Linked DNA regions of Homo sapiens: region 1 is linked to region 2. The links come from fine-mapping of genetic effects on gene expression. A gene starts in region 2. The other region holds a variant in brackets. All regions are shown on one strand. Distances are from middle to middle. Region 1 overlaps NFILZ (NFIL3 like basic leucine zipper). Region 2 holds the start of NFILZ (NFIL3 like basic leucine zipper).

What was found. PIP is the estimated chance that this variant, and not a neighbour inherited with it, causes the effect.
Region 1: its variant is fine-mapped to the expression of NFILZ in whole blood (INTERVAL, PIP above 0.99).

Annotation. Positions count from the first base shown.
Region 1 is chr19:8,664,577-8,667,484 of GRCh38, reverse strand. All of the region lies in intron 3 of NFILZ (NFIL3 like basic leucine zipper), which reads right to left. Among named protein-coding and RNA genes, the nearest start is that of ACTL9, 33 kb to the left of the region's middle. The variant A/C (reference allele first, on the strand shown) is at 1,435.
Region 2 is chr19:8,628,890-8,631,797 of GRCh38, reverse strand. It overlaps NFILZ (NFIL3 like basic leucine zipper), which reads right to left and starts at 1,165. Exons shown (of 6, transcript NM_001378600.1): 1 at 1,054-1,165. RefSeq lists an enhancer at 65-359.

The DNA of each region.
Region 1 (2,908 bases), 36 kb before region 2:
AAACTTGAGTATCCATGGATTTTAATATCCAAGGGAGACCCCAGAACCAATCCCCCCCAGATATCAAGGGATGACTGTAGTTCCCAGAAAATCCAAGAGATGGGTTGACTCGTAGAAGGAAAAACTGAGACCCAAAGCTGGTAAAGAATTTATCAAGGTCATATGGGGTTTTAGTGGCAGAGATGGAACTAGAGCTTGGAGCTTAGAATTTAGCAGCCCAAAACCGAGGTCTAACTCAGGAACTGAGCCCTGGAGCCACTTGTGGCTCTCTAAGGGTTGTTTGTGGTTTCCCCTCCCTCTTTCCTGTTTTCTTTTCTTTCCTTGCATTGTAAGGCTGGTGCTGAACTGGACTCCACAGTCCCTCCCTAATAAGGAATGGGGCTTCCATCCCCTGACAGGGCAGGGTGGGACAGTGGGTAGAGAGAGATGGCCAACAGCCGAGCGAGGTGGCTCACACCTGTAATGCCAACACTTTGGGAGGCCGAGGCAGGAGGAACAGTTGAACTTAGGAGTCCGAGACCAACCCGGGCAATGTGGCAAAACCCTGTCTCTACAAAAAAAAAAAAAAAAAAGTTTTCAAAAATTAGCCGGGCATGGTGGTGTGCACCTCTGGTCCCAGCTACTTGGGAAGCTGAAGTGGGAGGATCACCTGAGCCTGGGGAGGTCGAGGCTGTAGTGAGCTGTGATCACACCACTGCACTCTAGCCTGGGCAACAGAGTGAGATTCTGTCTCAAAAAAGGAGAGAGAGATTGACAGAAAGAGAAAGATAAATGGCCAACCCTCTGCTCCTAAATTAGAATTTAATAAAATCTTAATGTCATAAGAGTAATTTATTGAGTGAAACTAAGAGAAATAGCCAATATTGGCCATGGGATACTGACTGAGTGACTTAACCTCTCTAAGCCTCAGCTCCTCATCTATAAAAGGGGTTCAAGGTTATCATCATAGGCAGATGTTGTGAGAACTAAAATGGTAAGATGTGTCTATAAGATATAAGATACCTGGCATAGGCTGGGCACGGTGGCGCACACCTGTCATCTCACACTTTGGGAGGCTGAGACAGGTGGATCGCTTGAGCCTAGGAGTTCAAGACCAGCCTGGGCAACATAGTGAGACCTTGTCTCTACAAAAAAATCAAAAAAAAAAATGAAGCAGGAGGTTGCTTGAGCCCAGGAGGTCAAGGTTGCAATGAGCTGTGATGGCACCACTGCACTCCCACCTGGATGATAGGAGTGACACCCTGTCTCAAAAATAAGAAGAAGAAGAAGATACTCAGCATATCAGCATAGTCTCCTATGAAGACTTGGGGAGTCTTCCTGTGGTTTGCCAACCCTCTTTTTTGAGCCCAAAGACACCCCAGATGAAGATGAAGCTACAGTTACCAGAAGACTCAGAGGCCAACAGAGTACAGAGAAGTTTAAAAGGACAAAAAA[A/C]AAAAGGTGAGAAAAAGAAAGATGAATCAAAGGAGAAGGGAGGAGGCTGCCTCACAAATTCCTCCACCCATGTGGCCAGAGGGTAGCCCACAAGCTTTTCTTTTGCTCTAAGAGAGGAGCTAAAAATGACTGCAAACTCTCCAGCGAGTGTAAGATTTCTTAACACTCAGGCAAAAGGTAGCATTTGCCAGGCCAATGCATGTCTGGAGAAATTGTTTAGGCATGTCGCTTACAAGGGAAATACTCATTTGTTTTCATTTACATGAGATACCAATTTTTCCTGCCGAAATTGGCAAAGATTTCTTAAAAACAATAAAACCTAATGCTAGCAAGGATGCAGTAAGATGGGCACTTGTGTACCTAGAAGGTATACCTTGCTTCCTGGCAAAGCAATTGAGAAATGTGAAATGAGTCAGGCATGAAGGCTCATGCCTGTAATTCCAGCACTTTGGGAGGCTGAGGTGAGAGGATCACTTGAAGCCAGGAGCTGGAGACCAGCCTGGGCAACATAGCAAGACCCCATCTCTCTTAAAAAAATGTTTAAGAAATACAAAACAAATTTGGACTCATACCCTGTTTGAAGAATGAGGGTATTGTTTTTCTGCTACCTGGGTCACTGCTCCAGGCTTTTCTCTATCCCTTTTCTGGCCTTAGTACCCCCTTAGCCCTCCTCAAACACACCACTCCAGCCACGTAGACCATTTTTTACTTCATGAAAGAATGGTCCCTCACCTCCACATAATGTTTCTTCTGCCTGAAGCATTCTTCCCTCACCTCTTCCCTAAGCCAAATCATATTTGTCCTTTAAGACACAGCTTAGATGCTACCTCCTACAGGAAGCCCACCAAATTGATTCCTCTCAGATAGGCCAGAAGCGCCTTCTAGGTTCCCAGGACCCAGTGGGATTCCACCATTGCTGCAGCAATCTCTCTGGGTCTGCCCCTGTGTCCACACATCTCCTGAATAGACAGTCGAATAAATATAAGAGTGTGAGATATTTGGAGAAGGGGGTGTGCTCCGTGTGGTCCAGAAAGCTAGGTAAGGACCACAGAGAGAGGGATGAAGGTGCAGTTTTGAACCAGCATCTGAAAGGATTTTGTAAGAATTCCAGCTCACTAACCAAGCAAGGTTGCCTTGATAGGTAATGAGCTGCCCGTCACAGGGGGTGTGCAAGCAGGGAGTTGGAGACTACTTCTCTAGGTCCAGCTCTCTGCCTTCTCCACCCCTCCTGCCCAGACTTGGGGGGCCTGAGATGAGGAAATTGCTTTCCTCCCCAAGCTGGCTTTCCTCTGACTCAAAAGTCTGCCCAAGGAGAACCAGGGACCCATAGAGGCTATTCCCACGGCCCTGGGCAGCCCAGCCCAGGTTTCTCGGAAGGGCCACATTTCCACGGGGTTCAGGGAACCCAATGGAACCTCGGGGCCCTGCACTCTCAATCTGATGGAGCCCCTGCCTCATAAAAGCCCCCAGCGAA
Region 2 (2,908 bases):
TCCCCATCACTAGAGACGCTTCAAGAGGTCAGCGGGTGTAGACGGAGGAGGCAGAAAGTGAAAGGCCAGGAGGCTGAGAGGCTGGAGCCGCCGCACAAAGGGGCTGGACACGAAGGCCTGGCGGCTGGATGTAGGGGAAGCCAGGCCAGCACTGCCTGTTTACTTTCAGAAGAACAGGGCCAATCTGCGGCCTCCCACTGTGACCCTGGACTCGGGGGAAGAGGGGGCCAAGACTCAGATGTTTGTCTACTGAGCTAATCCCTGGGCTTTGTCCCAGGGGACTCCGCTGCCTTCCCAGAAGACACGCCTGCCTCCAGACCCCCCAGAGATCAAGGGACAGGCACAGAACTCCAGTTCAGAATGCTGCCTCTCTGTTCAGTCCCCCTGTTCATCCCAAGCCCAGCCCCCAGCCCTGCCTGGGCTGACCCCCTCCAGCCTCCCTGTGAGCTCCTAATTTGGCCTGCCTAGAATTTGCAACCCCACTGGGCCACCCCTGAGAGAGCTGTGGGGTGCCAGCCTTGTTCTCAGTGCCCGGGTCCTGGGAAGGGAAAGCAGAGAGGGAGGAGCAGGAGGAAACCTTTGATGCTTAGCCAGAAGTCCCTGCCTGAAATTCCACCATTCAGGCACCCTCTTTGAGTTAAAGCAATGATTCCTGTATCCCTTCCAGAAACCCCTGGTACCCCAAAATGCTACAGAGGAAAAAATATCAAAGGAGTTAAGTAAGTTTGAGAAAGCTGTGCAAAGCACAGGTGTCTATTAAAGGCTCTGAAAAGATCTGCATGAAACGATCCTAGTCAGCTTTGCTTAATCCCCTCACTTGGCCGCAGTTCCATGCAACACGACCCGGGCATCCAAGGCCCCAATTAAAGGCAATCATGAGATCCCAGAAGGGAGATGGAGGTAGTTAAGCTGCAGGGGGAATAAGCTGATCCAACCGGACCTGTGTGGGGGAGAGAGGAGCCTAACCCAGGTCTGCATGCCCTCCTGTGTCAGAGACCAGAAATGTCCCACCCAAGGCATGGGAAGGAAGACTCAGCCTCTCATCATTACCACCTTGCTTCCTGCTCCTTGCTCCTCCTGGCTCTCCAGTCTTCCACCCAAGCCCTCAGGTTCCCCTAGAGCTCTTTCCCACTTCCTAGTCCCCAGCCATGGCAGAGAACTCTGTGCCCACGAACAGGGCTATAATGGAGATATCCCAGGTATTGTCAACCAACAAAGTGCCATGGAGGTGACATCATAAATATCAGTGATAGGCTGGGTGCGGTGGCTCACGCCTGTAATCCCAGATCTTTGGGAGGCCCGGGCAGGTGAATCACAAGCTCAGGAGTTCAAGACCAACCTGGCCAACGTAGTAAAACCCCGTCTGTACTAAAAAGACAAAAAATTAGCCAGGCGCGGTGGCACGTGCCTATAATCCCAGCTACTCAGGAGGCTGAGGCAAGAGAATCACTTGAACCTAAGAGGCAGAGGTTGCGGTGAGCAGAGATCATGCTGTTGCACTCCAGCCCGGGTGACAGTGTGAGACTCCAACTCAAAAATAAATAAATAACTATCAGTGACAGGAGTTTGAAGCTAGTGAATACAATGTTCATGGACACTATGAACACTCTCATAGGTTATTCCTGATGCCACACACCAGTGTGGATTTGAACTGTGCATCTACCACTGAGCAATTGTGTGATCCTGGGGAGTTAAACTCACCAGACCTCATCTGGAAGTTTGTAGTATTTTGTTATAGCAGTCCTAGGTAACTAACATACACTCTCTCCCTTTCTCTCCCTGTTTTCTTTTCTTTAATTTATTTTTATCATTTCTTTCTTTGTTTTTTTTTTATGGAGTTTCACTCTTGTTGCCCAGGCTGGAGTGCAATGGCACAGTCTCGGCTCACTGCAACCTCCGCCTCCTGGGTTCAAGCAATTTTCCTGTCTCAGCCTCCCAAGTAGCTGGGATTACAGGCATGTGCCACCACACTTGGCTAATTTTGTATTTTTAGTAGAGACGGGGTTTTACCATGTTGGTCAGGCTGGTCTCTAACTCTTGACCTCAGGTGATCCACCCGACTCGGCCTCCCAAAGTGCTGGGATTATAGGCGTAAGCCACCGTGCCTGGCCTATCCTTTCTTTCTTTTTATTTATTTTTATCTTTCCTTTCATTTTATGTATTTTTATCTGAGTGAGATAAAGTGTCCAACACCAGGAGATTGTGGGGTTTCTGTGAGATACCAAACCCGGACCCTAGCCTGCCCTTGTGCTGTCTTGTCCTTCTCTGGGGTCTCACATCCTTCCTCTGTCCACAGTCCTCCATGGCTCCCACCTCCTCAGGGTAAAAGCCCAAGTCCTTCCTGCAGCCCACAAGGCCCTTCATGACCTGTCCCTGTCACCTCCCTGTCCTCACCTCTCCCACATCAACTCACTTCCTTCCAGCTGTACACACAGACCCTGTTATGATGCCAGAACAGATAACAAAACAGGCACAGCCCAACCCCAAGACCTTTGCACACGTTGTTCCCTCCACTTAGAATGCTCCTGCCCCAGATCCCCTTGACTTCAATCAGGCCTCTGATCATATATTGCCTCCTCCAAGAAGCCTTCCATGCTTCCATGAACTCCCTCTCTAAAAGAGCCCCCTGGACTGGGTTGAATAGTGTCCCCTCCCCTAAATTCATGCCCATCTGGAACTTGTGAATGAGACTTTATTTGGAAATACAGTCTTTGCAGATGAAATCAACTTAAGATGAGGTCCTCCTGCGTTATGGTGGGTCCTAATCCAATGTGACTCGTGTCCTTATAAGAAGACGAAAATGGCCAGGCATAGTGGCTCACGCCTGTAATTCCAGCACTTTGGGAGGCCAAGGTGGGCAGATCGCCTGAGGTCAGGAGTTCAAGACCAGCCTGACCAACATGGAGAA